Linked DNA regions of Homo sapiens. The protein of the gene in region 1 interacts with the protein of each later gene in a pairwise test. Each region holds a gene or a part of one and is shown in the gene's direction. Other genes may lie near its edges.

Region 1 (4,380 bases):
TTGGATATTTTCTGCAATCCTGAAAAAAAAAGACATTTTACATTTTTCAGGAAATAAGTGGCTCACAAACCTGGCTTGGCACCAGGATCAAGTGGTAGGGAAGGAGAAGGGAGATTTTTAATATTAGAGATTCTTGAACTGGGCTCTCTAAGGGTGGGGTTGGGGAAGCTGTGTTTTAAGTCAGCACCTCACATGATTCAGACCTATATTCGGGCTACACAAAGGGAAGGGCTCCTCTCAAGCCCAAGATACAGATCACCACTGTCCAACCCCTCCCTGGGTCATTGTCTTTCTATGCTTTCATTTCCTATCTTGAGGAAAACATCGAGTTTCTAGAATTAATATAATAATAGTCCTGGAGATGCCTCATGTTTCATCTGGTGGAAGCTGGTGTCAGGGACTTTGTCAGCCCCATCATGATTCCAAGAGCTATGCATCTCTCCCTAACGCTGGAAAGTCCCATGACCTCACCCCATGACCACCAATACCATCCTTATCATTTCAAGGTTCTAAGATTCTACAATTTTCATATTCCTCCACGTTTCCACAATTCTGTATATCTACAGTAGAAGTAGATATACAGTAGAAGTAGATATACTTCAGACAGGCCCACGGGCCGTGTCTGAACTGTAGATATGTTTCACTTGGCTTGCATGATGTTTTAAATTTGAATTAGATGCCAATACTAAAAAATGAAGAGTTTTCATATAAAAATTCAGATTTCCAGATTCTCTTGAAAAACGAGGCACGTCAACACTGGTCTCACTCACATGGCAACCACCAGGGAAGCTGTGTGCAGGATGCCCTCTTTAGGTGGGACAAGACATTCTATTCGCCACAGTCCCCATCACTCCCTATCGCCTCCCTGACCCAGAGGCAAAGGGTCAGTTGTCATTTAGCATCTTATACCCAGCTCAGCCCCCGTTGTTTATGTGCCTGCCTGGTACCTGGGGGGATCCGGATTTGAGACTGTGCTCACAGCTCTTCTGGTTCTATGATCCTCTAGGCTTATTCCATGTGGCTAACGGTCATGATTCAAACATTCCATTTTCTCATGTTTGATGAATTCTGCATGTCTGAACTCCACTGTATCTAAACTAGGATGTGATGTCCCCATCATCTAGAAGTTCTACCTTGATCCCAGGTAGCTGAGTCCTGCCACACAGGCCCCTTCCCTGCAAATGAGTCAGGCAGGGCGCCTCCATTGAGAGGGCTGCTGGGAGTGGAGAAAGTGAAGAAAGTGAGACAGGAGGCCCCCGGTTGCATCTCCTCTGCCCCTCCCATCCCCTCCTCCAGTGTGGTCCCGGAACAGCAAGCCCGTGCACACCACCATCCTGAATCCCCACATCCACCTGATGGGCGACGAGTCAGCCTGCATCGCCTACATCCGCATCACGCAGTACCTGGACGCTGGCGGCATCCCACGCACCGCCCAGTCGGAGGAGACCCGTGTCTGGCACCGCCGGGATGGCAAATGGCAGATCGTCCACTTCCACAGATCTGGGGCGCCCTCCGTCCTGCCCCAGTAAGAATCCCTCCTTCCTGCCTCCCAGGGTAATGTAAAGGATGGGAGTGTTGCCCTGGAGGGGGTTACGTCGGGGAAGCTGCTGCCTTCAGCTCTGAAAGGCTGCAGAGTGGGGTGGGGAGACCCCAAGAAGGGGGCCAGGCCTGCAGGTCTGGGGGAAGAGCTGGGCAGGAGCCACCAGGGACCGCATGGACTCCATCTAAAGCGGCAGGGTGGGTGGGTTGCCCAAGCAGGAAACACCATGCCCTGAGAAGCACCCCGTGTGTGTCTTACAGCTGAGGGACCAGGCTGGGGTCGCTGCGTTGCTGTGCCGCAGAGATCCACTCTGTCCGTGGAGTGGAGCTGCTGGTTCTCCCAGGTGGATTTTGCTGGAATTCTCCCATGTCATCACCCCACCACCGTCACTTCTGTACCTGCATCAAGAAAACCTGCTTGTTCACAAAAGTCATCGCAACTTCAGAGCGAACGGCCACATCTCCCCACCTCTCACCCCCACCCTCTCCCCTGCCAGGCTGGGGCTTCCTCAGGCATGGGTGTCCACAGCACTGGCCCCCTCTCCCCAGCCTCAGCTGCTGTCCGCCTGATCTGTCTTGGGCTGTAGGCTAGAATGCCCGGGCTGGTGCCCACCAGGGGCTGGGGAGAAGGAGGGGTGGCATGATGAGGAAGGCAGCATCCGTCCGTCCCTCTCCCAGACCTCTCCTCTTCCAGTGTCCCCGGGGAAGGGCAGATGACACTCCCTTCCCCCTAAGCCAACCGCACTGAAGGAGTGGGGAGAAGAGCATACGCCAGGAGCCTCCTGCCTCAAAGTGCTCCCCTAAGTCTTCTTCCTCCTGTGCTGACCTCAGGGTGGTCTGACCCTTCCCTCGGTGTGGGGGATGTGGCCCTCTCAGGTGCCCCTACTTGCTTTCTGCTTCCTTCTGGTGAAGTCCACCTCCAACATTAACCTGCCCACCCCACCCCCGTCATCCCTGGAGAATTCCAGCTTTGTCGTATCTCAGAGAGGGAATCTAATTGTTTTTGGGGGGCAAAAGAAAGCAACGTTTAGGTATCACTTCTACTTGGACCGCATGCCTTTTTATAGCCAAATTTCTGTGTATTTCGTAAATGGATTTCGCGTTAATGGATATTTATGTAATAACTAGACTTCTCAGATTATTGTGAGAAGGGTCAGGTTGGAAGGGGTGTAGGAAGAGGGGTGAGGGGTAGTTTTTTTCTGTTCTAGTTTTTTTTTTTTTTTTTGTCATCTCTGAGGTGGACCTTGTCACCTGTGGTTATTGGGGCCAAGGTGGACTCAGCTCCGGGGAGAAGGGCCTCTCTGCCATTTCGGTCCCAAGGTGAGCTGACACAGGCGTTCCTTTTGGGACTGTGGAAGCATCAGATGCCAGCACTGACTCAGGAACAGCAAGTCAGGGCAGAGAGGAGGAGGGAGGCTGTCAGGATGGAAATACCTGGACTTTTCTTTGCTTCCCTCGCAAACTGGGGTCTTCTCTACCGAACTTCCCAGGATTTCATCTCACCATATCTGTGTGCCGCCCCCAGCACCCCCCACCCACCTCTGGGGGGCCCGTGAGCGTGTGTCTTCATTGCCTCTCTCCCCTTGGCGTCTGATGACCACAGCAAAGCACTGGGAATTTCTACTCTTCATGCCTCATCCTGCAGCCTCGGGTTCGCATTCTCTCTTTCTTTTCCTCTTTCCCTCTTTCCCTGGGATTGACTCTGAGTGGAATACCTTGGCACATCCACTAGGATCTACTGTCTGCACTGTTTTCTTTGCATGACTTTATACGCAGTAAGTATGTTGAAAACAAACAAAAAGAAGAAAACACTCAACAAAACCAATCTACATGTTTTGGACTAAAAAAAAAAATAGAGGTTGTATTCTCAGTGTCCGACTCGGAATTATGTTGCTGCCTCTCTGTGCTTTTGGCCTCTGTGTGGCCGTGTTTTGCCAGCATGAGATACTGTCCCCTCTGGAGGATTTTAGGGGAGGAAGAGCCACGTCCCCAGGGATTGGAGGAGGCTCCGGTACCCTCGACCCTCCTGGGTGTTGGTTGGAGCAGAACTGGTGAGGATGTTTGATCCGAGATTTTCTGAGCTCTCCCCAATCACCAGCTGTCTGCTGGGTTCTTTTCTCAAGTCCTGCTGCCCAGGCCCAGGTGAGACAGGCAACGCCAGGTCTGCAGGCCAGGAGAGATGCTGCCCAGGCCTCCTGGTTTCCAAGCTGGTCCATCACTGGCCTCTGTCCTTGGCAGAGACCTTGCTGCCCAGGCCCAGGGGCAGGCTCTTGGCCTGCCCCAGGCCCAGAGGGCTTCCCAGTAAGGCCCAGTGATCCCATTATCCCAGGGGCAAAACCACCTGTCCCCTTTTGAGCTGCCAGTTCCCTACAGCCATCCCCAGTCAAGGGTGAGGGTGTGGCCTTCACCAGGGGCTGCTGTAATTACCGAGCAAGGTCTGAGCTCTTCTTCAGCCTCAGTTCCCTCATTGGTTAAAAGGGTTCTTTGTTCCCATCCAGCCGATGAAGGAGCAAACGTCTGGCTATGTGAAGCCTAATTTACCTGCAGGAACTGGCAGGGATAGTCACTGGCTGGACTCCTGTTTACTTCTAGACCTGGTCAGGCTCCATCCCCTCCCCCACCTGCCCCTGATTCCCCTCGTCGGTGCCTGTCAACTGCTTTTCAGCAGTGGACTGCAGGGGAAAGAGCAGTGATTTGGGGTGAGTAGGCTTCAATTCCCAGCTCTGACCAGACTTGCTGTGTGACCTTGGGCAAGTTCCTTTCCCTCTTTGGAGCTTGGTTTCCCTGCCAGAGGAAACTGAGCTGGAGGAGCCTGAGGTCCTGCCTTTCATTGGCTGACAC
Region 2 (5,489 bases), on another chromosome or scaffold:
CTGGGACTACAGGCGCCCACCACCACTCCTGGCTAATTTTTTGTGTGTTTTCAGTAGAGACAGGGTTTCACTGTGTTAGCCAGGGTGGTCTCGATCTCCTGACCTTGTGATCCACCCGCCTCCGCCTCCAAAAGTGCTAGGATTACAGGCGTGAGCCACCACGCCCGGCATACTTAGACCTTTTAAAACTGTGCCTGTTCTCTTGCTCTTTGGCTTCTCTACTAGAAGGGCGGTTGTGGCTGTTCTGTATATATCAGTGATGAAATAGTTTTCTTTTTTGATGACGTAGATGGAATCCATGTATTCTTGCATCATTAGGTATTAAGTTGGGCATGTTACATTTGTAATTTTATTTAATTCTTAGGACAACGATGTGAGATGTAGTATCCATTACTCTTTCCAAAATTGTTGCCTTCCCAGCACAAGAGTGGCAGAGAAAACACTTAAATTACAGTCAGAAGTGGCCCTGTCACATAACAGTTCAGAGGAACCTCAGTTGTTTCTTTGTCCAATGGGAAAGATCATTGGTTACCCCTCACAACAGCTATGAGGATCAAAAGTAATAATATATGTAAACTGTAAAAGCATGACAAAAATGTAGGGCAGTGATGTAATTTTCAAAGGAATGATTTATGATATATTCAAGATTATAATATTGCTGTAGAAGTCATTGAAAATTAAATATGAGGTTGTCATTTAGTGTTTGAAGCCAGTGTTAGATATTTGGTTTCCCTTTGTCTTCATTGCAGACAGTAAGTGCAAATAAAAATTGCCGTTGAGATCAAAGAGAGTTTTATTTAGAATAAGATAATTCTCCCCCATCTCTGGAACTCAGTATTTGAAAGCAGATTTAATGTAAGAAAAGATTAATCAAGGTGGGATAATGCAAGAATTTCAGACAAAAAAGGAAATAGTCCATTATAAAATTATCTTGCACAGTGCTCTTACCTCTGTTGTAGCTTATTATATAGTTGTTGATTATAGATGATTATAGGAATCAGGTTGTAGTAATAAGAAAGTCTCCTTTTCTATAACAAGTTTAAAGCAGGTGTAGTGTATTTCCAAGAGATATATCTCATATATCTCATTTTTTGTTCTGTAAACAGGAAGCACAGTCCTATGCAGATGACAATAGTTTATTATTCATGGAGACATCCGCTAAAACATCAATGAATGTAAATGAAATATTCATGGCAATAGGTAAGATTAATATCTCTTTTTAAATGATCAATATAAGCAAAACAAGTGTGAAGCATATTTGGTTTGACTGTCTCTTTTTTAAAAAATTTTTGGGGGTGGGTTTGTGTGTATGTTTATGTGTGTGTGTGAGAGAGAGAGAGAGATTATACCACTTTTCTAAGTCCCTTCCACAAAACAATATTTTGTTGGTAATATTGTTAAATTTGAAAGATGATTACCTATTAGGTTGTAATACTGTCAGTTTAGGCAGCTTCTTCCAGGTGAGTTAAGCCTTAACCTCTTAACCTGATAGTTCAGACAGACAGATTTTGCAAAGGTTTCGCTGGGAAATTTGGATAAATATTTTTTTTATTAGATTATACTTTTTAAAAATCAAATTATTGGTAAATATAACTCAGAAGAACATGACACATAAGTATACAGATTGACAAATTATTTTAATGTAAACATTATAAGGAAGATGATTTCAAAGCATAGAGGCGTAAGGAGAAAAAAGGAAAACAAAACAACATCCATACTTTATATTACCTCAGATGGTCATTTGATCTTACACAATGTTCTTGCTGTTGCTTTAAGGTACTTTTTTTTTTTTTGAGACAGTCTCGCTCTGTCGCCCAGGCTGGAGTGCAATGGTACGATCTCAGCTCACTGCAACCTCCACTTCCCGGATTCAAGCGGTTCTCCTGCTTCTGCCTCCTGAATTGCTGGGATTACAGGTGCACACCACCACGCCCAGCTAATTTTTGTATTTATAGTAGAGACAGGGTTTCACCATGTTGGTCAGGCTGGTCTCGAACTCCTGATCTCGTGATCTGCCCACCTCGGCCTCCCAAAGTGCTGGGATTACAGGCGTGAGCCACTACACCCAGCCTAAGGTACTTTCTTTTTTTTTTTTTTTGAAATGGAGTCCTGCTCTGTCACCCAGGTTGGAGTGCAGTGGGACGATCTCGGCTCACTGCAAGCTCCGCCTCCTGGATTCACGCCATTCTCCTGCCTCAGCCTCTCCTGTAGCTGGGACTACAGGCACCCACCACCATGCCCGACTAATTTTTTTTGTATTTTTAGTAGAGACGGGGTTTCACCATGTTAGCCAGGATGGTCTCAATCTCCTGACCTTGTGATCCGCCCACGTCAGCCTCCCAAAGTGCTGGGATTACAGGCGCGAGCCACTGCCCCTGGCCCTAAGGTACTTTTAACTGATGGTAATTGCTGTTTCAGTTATAAGTAATGAAGTTGGAGTAGTAATAAGCCTCCTTTTTTCTATAACAAAAATAAAGGTTGGTTTTGTTTTTTGGTTTTGGATTTTTTTTTTAACCCTTTCCTCTTTCCAGTGGTTTTAATGTATAGATTCTACCTGAAGGGTCTGTTTTGGTGGTTCTCAAAGTTTGCCGTCTGTGGTTTTCATGTGCCCAGCACTCTTCTCATCCCATAACACCTTTTATTTTACAGCACTGATTCTTAACTGGGGTGTTCACAGTCCTAACCCCAAGTAAGAAATATTCTTAAATTGAACTCATAAATAGTTAATAGCTGAATCAGAGAATAATGAAAACCCAGTAAAAGTTGCAAGTATTTTTATTATTTTTCACTAGGTGACAGAGTTTAATGGTACTTCATTCGAAATGGGAAAGAACTTGCCTTTTCTCATGTAAACTGTTTTCCTGAAAAACTCAAGTTTGCAGTTTGCTAGGGAAGTGCTGGCACAGTTGCGAAGGATTGTGTGATAATATACTCATTTTACAAATGTGACAGATGACACCCAGAATCACATCTGAAAAGTTAGAGGAAACAATGAGTTAATAGGCCTCTCAAATCAGCCTGCACTGTAAACCTTTCTCACAATATTTAAACTCTACCAGATGGGCTTTAGTTTGTACCTTTTTATTCAAACATGCTAATAAAGTCATTTTTCGAGTTAGAAAGCAGCCTACATATTTTAGTTTTTTGTTTTTTTCTGAAATCAGAATGTTGCACTTCTTAAAAGAAAATCTATGTTGTAAATGGAATTGTGGCCTTTCCATTTCCTTCACTAGGTTAGTAAATTTTTTTTTCTTTTTTTTTTTGTTATGAAGGAACACTTTGATAGATTAGTAACTTAAATCACACAGTGCACTCATAACAACTCTAATCAATGCAAGGACTAAAAAGTTACTCGTTCTAGTTTACCTCCTTCATCCTCTTAATCTCACTCACCTCTGATTTAAACACTTAGGGAACATGCTAAAGGGATACATGATTGATTACTCAATCTGGAACCTAAGTTGTTATTATATACAATATATAGTGCTATTTTGTGTCCCAGGTACCAGTGTTCAACATTTCTGGGGCTTTGCTTGTAAATACATTTGACTGGAGATTTACCATTATAATGCTATTTATGCTACCAGCCCAGAGCCAGTCCCAGAGAAGTGGCCCAATTGAAGGCTTTCTTTCCAAACTTCAGTGCTCCTGGCTCCCAAATCCATTGCCCAACCCAGCATCTAGGATTCTAAAAATGATTGATGCTGATGTAGAATGGAATGTGTAGAACAAATAAAGGATAAAAGGTTCACAATGCAACTAGGCAATCCGATCTCAAAGCAGAGTGTATTCAATTTCTGAGTAACCTGAGTCAAAGCTATGGTAAAGTTAGAGTCTTACCATAGTGGTCTGTCCCCAAGATTGATAGAGATCAGTGTGTGCAGCCACTCTTAAAATCAGTACTCTTAGTCATCTTTAATATTCTGCCTCCCCTCAAAAAATGAATTTAGCACATCAAGGATCTTATGTATTAAAACAAACTACAGCAATCTCCAACTTTACAGTGGTTTGACTTACGATTTTATAACTCGATGGGGTGAAAGTGATATGCATTTAGTACATTCTTAACTTACTACGGGATTACATACAGAAACCCATCATAAATTAAAAATATCATAAATCAGGCTGGGCGCAGTGGCTCACTACCTGTAATCCCAGCACTTTGGGAGGCCAAGGCGGGCTATCACCTGAGGTCAGGAGTTGGTCAGGAAACAAGCCGGGCCAACATGTCGAAACCCCGTCTCTACTAAAAATAGAAAAATTAGCTGGGTGTGGTGGTATGTGCCTGTAGTCCCAGCTACTTGGGAGGCTGAGGCAGGGGAATTGCTTGAACCCAGGAGGCAGAGGTTGTAGCGAGCTGAGATCGTGCCACTGCACTCCAGCCTGGGTGACAGAGCGAGACTCCGCCTCAAAAAAAAAAAAATCATAAATCAAAAACATACAACTTAGGATGGATATATCAGGATGTAGCCCCATTGTAAGTCAAGGAGCATCTGTATATCCAGCAGGTAAGTTTTTTTAATCAGTGGGAAGCACACTCCAGAGAACAGCCACTAGCTGTATAGAGCTTGGCAGAGGTAAAGCCGTAACTGCTGGTTGAGAGTGTTGTCTGAATTTGACAAGCCACACTCATCGGACTCAAATAAAATTAAGAAATAGTTTTTGGAGATGAGGTCTTCAGGATAATTCTATCTGGATTAGGTACAGCTACTGGTCAGTCAGATTAGGATTCATCAGCCCATAAAAGGAGAAAATGAGGTTGGTTGAGGTGGCTCACTCCTATAATCCCAATACTTTGAGAGGCCACGGTGGGATGATCTTCAAGGCCAGGAGTTCTAGACCAGCCTGGGCAACAGAGCAAGACCCTATCTCTACCAAAAAAAAAAAGCCAGGCATGGTGGTGCACACCCTGTAGTCTCAGCTACTTGGAAAGCTGAGGTGGGAGGATCTTTTGAGCCCAGGAGTTCAAGGCTGCAGTGAGCTATGATTGATGCACCACACTCTAACTTGGGCTACAGAGGGAGACCTTGTCTCCAAAATGAAAAGAAGTATGGCTGCAGGCTACATTCAAACTAAGATCACAACGAAGTGTTGAGTATGTATAAATGTATGTGGATATGTTTGTGTCTAAGTGTATTTCCACTAGCATGCTAAGGTATGTTTGTGTGTGAGTATGTTTCCTCCAGTATGCTAAGTTTTGACACATGCAGGCATCTAACTTGGGTGTTATCTGTCCTTCCTTTGCCCAAAGCATAGATTATAATTGTTCATTCTCAAAAATGCAACTCTTATCTATTTCCCCTTTATTTGAAGGCAGCTGATGGTTACTCTGCAAGGTGTAAGTTTCTCTTTTAAAAACTAAGCGGTCGAGCATGGTGGCTCATGCTTGCAGTCCCAGCACGTGGGAGTCTGAGGCGGAAGAGTTGCTTGAGCCCAAGAGTTCAAGACCAGCCTAGGCAACAAAGTGAGACCCCATCTCACTTTGGAAC
Region 3 (5,675 bases), on another chromosome or scaffold:
TCTGTGGTCCTGGGGCAGGCCCTGAATAGGGCCACAGAGGGTAGCAGCACCGGCTCAGAGAAGGGAGAGTGGACGCCCCTGGTCATCATGGAATTAACTCAGAGCGTGAACTCTTGGTAGGTGCCCAGCCCTGTGCTTGGGCTGAAACCAAAAAAAGACAACTTCAGATCTTGAAATTGTGCGACCCCCACACTCCTGTCCCTTACCCTCTCCCCAAGCCCTTTGTTCCTGCCTCTTCTCTCTACATCATTTGTGGGGTGGCCAAGGCTGGGCCAGGGCTCTGACGTGCCCTCCACACTGACTTGCCCGCAGCTATTTCGGCTTCATCACCAAACACCCCCTGCTGAGCCGCTTCGCCTGCCACGTCTTTGTCTCCCAGGAGTCCATGAGGCCGGTGGCGCAGAGTGTGGGGTGAGTGGGGCCCCAGGGTGTGGGTGCAGAATGGGTGCAGGGTTACGGAGGTGGGGAGCGGAGGTGAGCAGGTGGGGGCAGGAGCCTGGCAGGGGAGGTCTGGGGAAGGAGAACCAGATGTGCTGTGTAGAGAGGGCAGTGGTGGGTGACAGTTTGGGGTGCTGGGCATGGGGTGGGAACAGGCACAGACACATGGCCCAGGCACTCTGGCAGGGGTAGAATTGCTGGGCCAGGAGAGCTGAGGGTCACACTTGGGGGTGACATGGCCATGCCTGGGTGGGGGGTTATGGATGGCTGCAGAGGGAGGAAGGAGGGAGAGCTCAGAGGCTCTGTGGAAGGCAGTTTGGGGGTTGAGGACCGGCCCTGAGTGGCTGGTGGAGGACCGTCTTTCCCCAGCCGCGCCTTCCTGGAGTACTACCAAGAGCACCTGGCGTACGCCTGCCCCACGGAGGACATCTACCTGGAGTAGCCTGCCCACCGCTCTGTCTCCTGGCCGTCTGCTCCAGGCGCAGCTGGGGCTGAGGATGTCTCAAGAGGCCACCATGGCTTTGGCAAGGACTGGATTGGGGGGACATGGGACCTTACGCTTGTGGGGGTCTGCGGGCTGGGAACTCTCGTCCTCGGTCCCCAGGGCGCAGCTGTTGGGGCTGCGGGGGAGTGGAGCCCCCGTGCCCCTGCTTTTCCTCAGATCCGTTCTTTCTCTGTGTTGTCCTCCTCCTTCCCTTCCCAGTCTCCCTTTTCTCTCTCCTGGTGTCTCTGCCCCTCTCTGTGCCTGCAAACCTTATCCTCTATTCTTCACTTTGGGGTCAGAACTTCGGGGGTGTGGAGGAGGTGCGGCTCTAGGGACAGGTAATGTCGGCTTCCAAGTGATGCCCTCCTGCCACTCCCCTGCGATTTATAAGGGAATTTTAATTTTTATAGTGAATCTCAAGGGATCATCCCATCCTTGACCACAGGGACAAGAGGGGCCCCCTCGCCCCAGCCCCACCCCACATGGAGCTCAGGGGGAAGCAGGGAGGGGTTCCCAAAAGAGCCCTGCGGAGGCTAGGAGTGGTTCTTGATGCTCACCTGAAGCCCCTAGACGCTGCTAGGAGGGGGGGCCCTCCTGGGCCCCCAATACCCCTCCGCTTGCCGCTGCTAGCGCACCCCTGCAGTCCAGCGTGCATCCACCCCACGCACGCCCCGTGCTGTGTTCCTGGGCCCTGCCCATGGCCTCAATAAACTCTCTGCTTGGTGTGACATTGGCTGTTTCTAGAGGGTGCTAAGACATGGGGCCAGGTGCCCAGGGGCTGCCCATTGTGGTAGGGACAGAGTCCCCAGTGGCGGGAGTGTTGTGGCAATCTCACCCTTTTAGCTCTTTCCGAAATTGTGCCGGGGGTCCCTGCGGTGCTGCTCTGGGGCCTTATCTGAGGTGCCGTATCTAGAAGCACCCTTGGGAATTCTCCCTAGATACACTCGATTGGCCACAGAGGAATCCGAGGCTGTGCAATGGGGTGTCCTTTCCACGTGCACGGACTGGGGGCCAGCACGGCTCAGGTCAGTGTGTAGTGGGGGCATGAACTCCTTGAAGAACAATCTGGCCGGGCACGGTGGCTCACGCTTGTAATCCCAACACTTTGGGAGGCCGAGCCGGGGCGTATCACCTGAGGTCAGGAGTTTGAGACCAGCTTGGCCAACATGGTGAAACCCCATCTCCACAAAAAATACAAAAATTAGCTAGGTGTCCTGGCGCACACCTGTAATCCCAGCTACTCAGGAGGCTAAGGCATGAGAATCGCTTGAACCTGGGAGGCGGAGGTTGCAGTGAGCCAAGATTGCACCACTGCACTCCAGCCTGGGCGACAGAGGGAGACTCCGTCTCAGAAAAAGGAAAAGAAAAACAATCTACTTAGATCTTAAAATGGATATTTAAAAAATTCTCCAGAGAAAGCCAGAAGAAAATAGGTGACTTTTTCACTATGTGCTTAGGTGACTGCAGATGCCCGGCAATGTTCCCTCCCAGGCCCTCCTGGGTGAGCCCGCCTCCCAGGCAGGGGTCAGCATGGCCGGGGTCCCTCTGTCTGAGCCCAGGATTCGTGCAACACCAGGAAGACAACAGTTGAAGGTTCCTTAGTGAGCTAAGGGAAGTATACACAAACTTACTACATAAACATTAGAAAGTGCTGTCCGTAAAAAACACGTCTTCACAGAGCCAACAAGCAGAGAAATAGCTGCCCAGTGTTAGGAAGTGCATCATGATCCAGAGGTTCAGCCCGTGTGCAGCGCACAGACCTGAGGCCCCAGAGAGACCGAGGACGCAGACCAGTGGCACGACGGAAACGCAGAACGTTTATGAGAAAACTTTCCTACTAATTGAGATAAAGCTGTAAAGAGGCAGATAGCCCCACTGGGTGTGTACGTTTGAAACTTGTGCCCCCTGGGCTAGGGCATTCGGGGTGTGGCCCTCAGTCCCCTGTAGCTGCTGCCTGGAAACCGCTGCCACCCACCCACCTCCTCCCTCTGCTCTTCCACTCAGGTGAGAATTCTCCAAGCCCTGCCCTCCGGCGCCCCCGTCCCGCCCCTGCCCGGCCTGGCCCCGCCCCTGCCCGGCCCCGCCCCCCAACGTGTCTTCAGGTCTCTTTCCCTCCAGCCGGCCCTTAGGACGGCTGTTGGACGTGCTCGTGAGTCCTTCGCCTGTCTGCCTTCCACCTCTCTGCAGCTCCTTCTCCAATCTCATGGTCTTCTTGAGCTTGGCCGCCCTCCACGCCCCATGCTGGGCTTGGTCGGTTCTGGGGTCTACCTCTCTGGCTTCATCCCTCCCACAGTTTCGAGGGTTTCCCTGTGCTCAGGCCCCTGGCAGCCGCCCCCTGTGCAGACCACTGGGCAGATCCAGCTGACCTCCAGGGGCACTTCCTCGGCTCATCACTGGGCCGGTGCTCTGCAGAATGAGCTGTGAGAGCCACTGTGGCTGGCCAGAGGGTGCCACTCACAGTCACTTCAGACTCACAGGAGCCTTCGTCCCGACCCCTGCATTCATCTGTGTTCTGTTTTATGTTTTTTCCCAGTCACCTGAGCTGCAGGCCTTGGTCACCCCAGACTCCTCCCTCCTGTCACCCTTATCCTCACCCCAGCACCTTTACGTCTGCCCCAGGCTCCATTTCCCCCTCTTCTGCCTGGATCAAACCACCCTGACTTTCCTGGGTCTTCGTGCAACAGCCTGCTCCGGCCGCTGCCTCACTGCACCTGCAAATCCACTTGCACCCACACCCAGGCCAGGGTTTTTAAACAGAAGCCTCAGCAGATCCCTCTCTCTGGCCAGCTCCCTGTTGAACCAGGAAGCAGGTCCCTGTTGAACCTCAGCATGACCCGCCCCCACCCCTGCATCCCACTTCTGCTCTGGGAGCCTCTGGGTTCCTGGGCGCACCTGCTGCCCTTCCCTGTTTGTCACTGGGTGACCTCCCGTCCTTGTGGGCGCTCCCGGGCCCTGGTCTCGGGCCTTCTGAGGACTTGCTCTCCTGGTAGCGGCTGCTGACTGTGAGCCCAGAGAGCAGGCGTGGCTGTTGACCTTAGGTCCTCCCAGAACCTGGCGGATCGCCTGGCTCCCAGGCAGGAGGCGCTGCATGACGCCTCCAACTTCCGCCAATCTAGCCCAAGGATGGCGTTCTAAATAAAACGCGTTCTACAGAAAAGTGTTTATTGCATTCTTCTTTGAAATAATGTAAGCATAAAAGTAATCTGAATATTGACCAATAGGGTTAATTGATTAAGGTATATTTACCTAATTGAAATATTGGGTAGATGTGAAAAAAAGTTCCAATGTTTGTAATTACACAGAAAATTTCTGTTATGCTATTAAGTGGAAATAAATTTCTGGGCACAGCAGCTCATGCTACTGTGTAATCTTAGCAATTTGGGAGGCCAAGGTGGGCAGATCCCTTGAGTCTGGGAGTTCGAGACCAGCCTGAGCAACAAAGCGAAACCTCTATCTCTACAAAAAAAAAAAAAAAAAAATACAAAAATTATCTAGGTGTGGTGGCACACACCTGTAGTCCCAGTTACTTGGGTGGGTAAGGGAGGAGGATAGCTTGAGCCTAGGAGGTTGAGGCTGCAGTGAGCCATGATCATGCCACCACACTCTGGCTGGAAAGAGCAAGACCCTGTAACCACAATGAAAGAAAAGAAGAGAGAGAGAGAGAGAGAAAGAGAGAGAGAGAGAGAGAGAGAGATGAAAGAAAGAAAGAGAAAGAAAGAAAATAGGCAGGGTCATATGTAGCATTCTAGAAACTATATGTTGAAAAATGCTGAAACACAAAAAATGTTAAAAGTCATTTTTGGCCGGGCGCAGTGGCTCATGCCTGTAATCCCAACACTTTGGGAGGCTGAGGCAGGCGGATCATGAGGTCAGGAGATCGAGACCATCCTGGCTAACACGGTCAAACCCCATCTCTACTAAAAATACAAAAAATTAGCCGGGTGTGGTGGCAGGCGCTTGTAGTTCCAGCTACTCGGGAGGCTGAGGCAGGAGAATGGCATGAACCTGGGAGGCGGAGCTTGCAGTGAGCCAAGATCGCGCCACTGCACTCCAGCCTGGGAGACAGAGCAAGACTCCGTCTCAAAAAAAAAAAAAAAAAAAAAAAAAAAAAAAAAAAAAACCACCTCATTTTTGCTGAAGTTGAGCTGAGGGTGTTTCTCTTCCTTTTTTTCCTGCAGCAAATATGTCTTAATTTTTTGAAGTATTATTTGCTACTTATTAGAGACCTCCAAGTGCAAATGGAAATATCCACAGAAAAACTAAAGATAAAAAAGTTAAGATAAATTAATCAAACTCAAACAAAAAAGTTATTTTGGCTACAATAAAAATACCACCCCATAAGGTTATCATAAGGCTTAAATGAATCTGCCAGTCAGACAGGCCAAGGGTAGTGCTTGAGTAAGTTATTATTTTTATAAACACTATAAAAGTAGGATTTCCCTATTTTTAAAAATATTACTTTCCCTGGCTGGGCGTGATGGCTTGCACCTGTAATCCCAGCACTTTGGGAGGACGAGGCGGGTGGATCACCAGGTCAGGAGATCGAGACCATCCTGGCTAACACGGTGAAACCCCGTCTCTACTAAAAATACAAAAACAAAATTCGCTGGGCATAGTGGTGGGCACCTGTGGTCCCGGCTACTCGGGAAGCTGAGGCAGGAGAGTGGCGTGAACCCGGGAGGCGGAGCTTGCAGTGAGTGGAGACCGCACCACTGCACTCCAGCCTGGGAGACAGAGTGAGACTCTGTCTAAA
Region 4 (4,351 bases), on another chromosome or scaffold:
AATTTAGCCTGCAGGGGACCTATAGATGAATAGGACATGCTTCTTCCCTTCAGAGAACTGAGAGCAGATGAAATGTGGGCACAACAATGTTAGTGCCCTGGCAAAGTGAAAACCATCAAAGTGGCCCGAGGACAAAGGCAGAATCCCTGCAGCGGGGGAGGTTCCAGTGAGCAGCACTGGGAGGAGGGCATTCCAGGCAGGAGGAGCAAGGCCCTCAGATGGGAAAGCAAGTGGCAAGCTGGAGGCCTGGGGAATAAAGGAGTCTGGCTGAAGAATTAGATTTGTCTCTGAAAAAGGTGGAAAATAGGATTGGAAAAGGGAGGTTGAGACTAGATTATGAAAGGCTTTGGACTGCTAGGCCTGGGGATCCAGGGAAGATTTATGCACATCAGAGTGAATTGATGGGCTGGAAGTAAGAGAAAGAGGAAGCAGGATAGGGTGGGGTCTAGAGGTGGCTCTAGGGGCCTATGGGACAGATTATCATCCCCTGGAGGTGAGAATAGAGACCCAGACAAGCCCCCTGCAGGTTGGCCAACTTCCCACATTCTGTGCTGTGACTCTGGGCTCTGGGAAGATAGACTTGCTGTAGGAGATAGCCCTGGCTGTGTCTGGGAGGGAGGGTGGTCTCAATGTCTCCTCAGTCAGCTTTCGGGAACCACCGACTGGGAGCTGTGAGACCAGAAGGTTGAGACTTGGTCTCCACATGTCTGCAGAGGTCGGAGGAGTGGGTAGGCAGCCCGAGGAAGGAGCAGCCTGAGAAGTGAGAGACAGCCTGGGGAAAGCCAGAGACAGTGGAGGCAAAGAGGAGGGTGAGGAGAAGGAGCAGGGTGGATTGGCGTTCTGAGAGGCTGGGGAGACCAGGACCATGAGGTCGGAAAAATAATGTAAGGGATGCAAGCCTGAGTACCCAGAGGGGATGATCTGTTCATTCAAAAAATATTGATCCAGCACCTTGTATGTGCCTGGCACTGTTGTAGACACCAGGGATAATGAAGTGAACGAAAAAAAGGTTTTCCTTCTCCTAAGGAGCTTTCATTCTAGAAGGAGAAATGGACAATAAGGAGATAAACAGGCAAGCATGCAAGGCCAGGTCCTCAGGATATGGGTTGGGGTGGGGAGAAGAATCAAGGGCAGCCTCTTGAGCCAAGATCTAAATGAGATGAGAGAATGAACCACACATACATTTCGGGGATGAGCCTCTGGGCAGAAATAATAGAAAGTGCAAGGGCTCTGAGGTGGGAACCTGTGGCTGCAGCACAAACAGTGAGGGAGGGAGTGCATGGAATTAAAATAAGAGGTAGCCAGGGCCAGACTAGACAGGGCCTGGTAGGCATGGCTAGAAGTCTTGTTTCAGGAGCAGTGGAAAACCATGTAGGCTTTTAAATTGATGAGGACATGTTCTAATCTTCTATATAAAACAGATCACATTGGTCAATGTCTGAAGAATGGACTATGAGGGTAAGAGCTGAGGCAGGGGAGTAGGCTAGAGCTTTATAGTTGAGCAAGAGGCATTGGTGGGATGGATAAAGGCAGTGACCCTGGGAAAGGGGGCAGGTGAAAAGATCTGTGATGTGTTATTTTCTTGGTAGAATTGGTGGGACGTGATGATGGTTGAATGTGTGATGAGGGAAAGGGAAAAGTCAAACAAATTCCTTGGTTTTTGACTTGTGCAACTGGAGCAGCAGCAATGCCAAAACACTAAGGTCATTGGGCCAGGCACAGTGGCTCACGCCTGTAATCCCAGCACTTTCGGAGACCGAGGTGGGTGGATCACTTGAGGTCAGGAGTTCGAGACCAGCCTGGCCAAGATGGTAAAACCCCATCTCTACTAAAAATACACAAATTAGCTGGGCATAATCGTGGGTGCCTATAATCCCAGCTACTCGGGAGGCTGAGGCAGGAGAATTGCTTGAACCAGGGAGGCGGAGGTTGCAGTGAGCCGAGATCATGCCATTGTATTCCAGCCTGGGTGACAGAGCACAACTCCATCTCAAAAACAAAACAAAATAAAACAAACAAACAAACAAAAAACAAAAAATGACCAAGGTCATGATGACCACAGCAAGGATCTGTTTACCAAGAGTCAGTCTTAGACATGTGAAAATTGAGAAAGTCATTAGACAGATGGGTGGAGCTATGGATAGGTAGGTGCATATAGGAGTCTGGAACTCAGGGGAGAGGTTGGGGCTGGTAATACGTTTGGGAGCCATTCTCATATACATGATATTTCAAGGCAAGGGATGGGATGGGATGAGATGGCCCAAAATACACAAGTATAGAGAAGAGAAGAGATCCAAGGGCTGAGCCTTGAGACTTCCAGCATGTAGAGGCTGCGGAGATGTGGAGGAACCAGCAAAGATTCTGTGAATAAGTAGGACTATCTAGTGAGGTGGGGAAAAAAATGGGAAAGTGGAGTGCAGGAAGCCAAGTGAAGAAAGTGTTTCCTGAACAAAGTGCTGGTGTTGGGGTGGTGACGCGAGGTGCTGATGGAACAAGATCAAGGTGAGGCTGCACCTGGCTGGGGAGTATGCATGGGCCTAAGCAGAGAGTTCAGCATGGAAGACAAGGAAGGTCAGCAGAAAAGGTGGAATCAAGAGACAAAACTGTGTGAAGGGGAGAGGAAGGAGTGAGAGGCTTCCATGTCCTCAGGGAAGGAGAAGTAGAGCCCTCCCCTCTGCCAAGTCAATTTGCACACATTCATCATGGTGGAATAACCATACAATTTATCTTCCAAGCAATAATAAATTTGAGAGTTAAAAGGAGTACAGATAATAATTATATCAGGCCAGACACGGTGGCTCACAACTGTATTCCCAGCACTTTGGGAGGCCAAGGCAGGTGGATCACCTGAGGTCAGGAGTTTGAGACCAGCCTGGCCAACACAGTGAAACCCCATCTCTACCAAAAATACAAAAAATTAGCCAGGTGTGATGGTGCACACATGTAGTCCCAACTACTGGGGAGAATGAGGCACAGGAATCGCTTGGACCTGGGAAGCAGAGATTGCGGTGAGTCAAGATCATGCCACTGCACTCCAGCCTGGGTGACAGAGTAAGACTCTGTTTCAAATAAATGAAACTATAAAATAATTATACCAGAAATACCAACATAGAGGCCGGCCCAGGCAAACCAGGACATATGTTCGTCCTACTCAACAGGCAACTCAAGCTCCTCCTCCTCCAGGAAGCATTACTTGTTAACTCTCGTCCACACAGATTGCTCCTCTTCCTGGCCCTCTAGCGTACATACTGTCTAGATCATGCCGGTGGCCGTTGATCTGATCAGAAGTTCTCAACCTGGAGGACCTAGCTGCATGTGTGCCAATCAGATATGAGCTGTGTCATGATCATTGTTGATTACTGATAATTGTTAAATACTGAAGTATGGGTTACAGCCTTTATTTTGTAAGTCAGAGTGGAAGGCAGGGTATCCCTATAATAACATCATTATGATTTCTGAATGATCCCAATATGATTTCTGAAAGAGAGAAACAGAGGTGGGGTTACCGCTGGCATGGATTGCTTATGAGGGACCCACATTGTGTCAGGCCCTGGGCACATGATATGAAATAGGTAAAGTCTCTGCTCTCTTGGCACTTATTTTAGTGAGAAGCTAGTGAGACAACCCAGCCCAACTTGCCCATGGAGACTCAGTGAGCAAGAGACAGAGTTAGCTGCTGAGGCACTACAAATGAATGCCGTGGTCTATTTCCATTGCTTCTTCCCTCCTCTGCTCCCGCTTTTTGTTTCATCAATTCATAGAAGGGTACCATGAATGTGAATCTCTTCTATAATATGCATCTGCCCAGCTGAAAAGTGATTGAGAATCCCAGGATTAGATTAAATCTAGCCATTTGCTCTATTGTAATTTGTATTGAGTTCTGTTCCCATTCATTCAAAGTATCTGAGCAGATGGGTGAAGAAATTACAGTAGGATTCCAGCAGTGTGAGTAAATGATTCCATCTGGAGAGGTCAGGGAAGTCTTCACAGAGGAGATGGCTTTTGAACTCTATTTTGAAGTATGGATAGGAGTGTGCCAGGGAGAAAAGGAGAGGCGTGTGCATTTCTGCTCTTAGACGGTGAGGCTCACGTCTTAACCCTTCCTTCCCTGAGGGTCTAGCAAAGCCCTAGGCACTCAGTGATGTCTCAATGCTTATTTCTGAGTCAGGGATGGAGTGAAGGGCCTGATTTAGCTTAGTGCTGGAAGGGGAGGAGGGACTCTGGGATTGTCCAGCCCCAAAGACCTTATGCTGGACTTGCCTCTAAGTTCTCTGATGTTGTAGATTTTCCTGAGGGACATGTCTGGTCCTCTAAGGCAGGTAGAGTGGTCACAGGAATACAGGTAAGATGC

Evidence for each region.
Region 2: the proteins of CAMK2A (region 1) and RAB5A interact in binary tests that used the Homo sapiens proteins (3 or more experiments, as listed by UniProt).
Region 3: the proteins of CAMK2A (region 1) and MAPK8IP2 interact in binary tests that used the Homo sapiens proteins (3 or more experiments, as listed by UniProt).
Region 4: the proteins of CAMK2A (region 1) and C1orf94 interact in binary tests that used the Homo sapiens proteins (3 or more experiments, as listed by UniProt).

Annotation. Positions count from the first base shown.
Region 1 is NC_000005.10:150,220,134-150,224,513, reverse strand, and holds part of CAMK2A (calcium/calmodulin-dependent protein kinase type II subunit alpha), read left to right. Parts: intron 1-1,296; coding exon 1,297-1,525; coding exon of another isoform or gene 1,526-1,529; exon of another isoform or gene 1,530-1,554; intron 1,555-1,800; coding exon 1,801-1,804; 3' UTR 1,805-4,380. UniProt on the Homo sapiens protein: Calcium/calmodulin-dependent protein kinase that functions autonomously after Ca(2+)/calmodulin-binding and autophosphorylation, and is involved in various processes, such as synaptic plasticity, neurotransmitter release and long-term potentiation.
Region 2 is NC_000003.12:19,977,204-19,982,692, forward strand, and holds part of RAB5A (ras-related protein Rab-5A), read left to right. Parts: intron 1-1,106; coding exon 1,107-1,200; intron 1,201-2,757; exon of another isoform or gene 2,758-2,971; intron 2,972-5,489. UniProt on the Homo sapiens protein: The small GTPases Rab are key regulators of intracellular membrane trafficking, from the formation of transport vesicles to their fusion with membranes.
Region 3 is NC_000022.11:50,609,900-50,615,574, forward strand, and holds the end of MAPK8IP2 (C-Jun-amino-terminal kinase-interacting protein 2), read left to right. Parts: intron 1-312; coding exon 313-411; intron 412-807; coding exon 808-880; 3' UTR 881-4,079; downstream 4,080-5,675. UniProt on the Homo sapiens protein: The JNK-interacting protein (JIP) group of scaffold proteins selectively mediates JNK signaling by aggregating specific components of the MAPK cascade to form a functional JNK signaling module.
Region 4 is NC_000001.11:34,214,014-34,218,364, forward strand, and holds part of C1orf94 (uncharacterized protein C1orf94), read left to right. Parts: intron 1-4,351.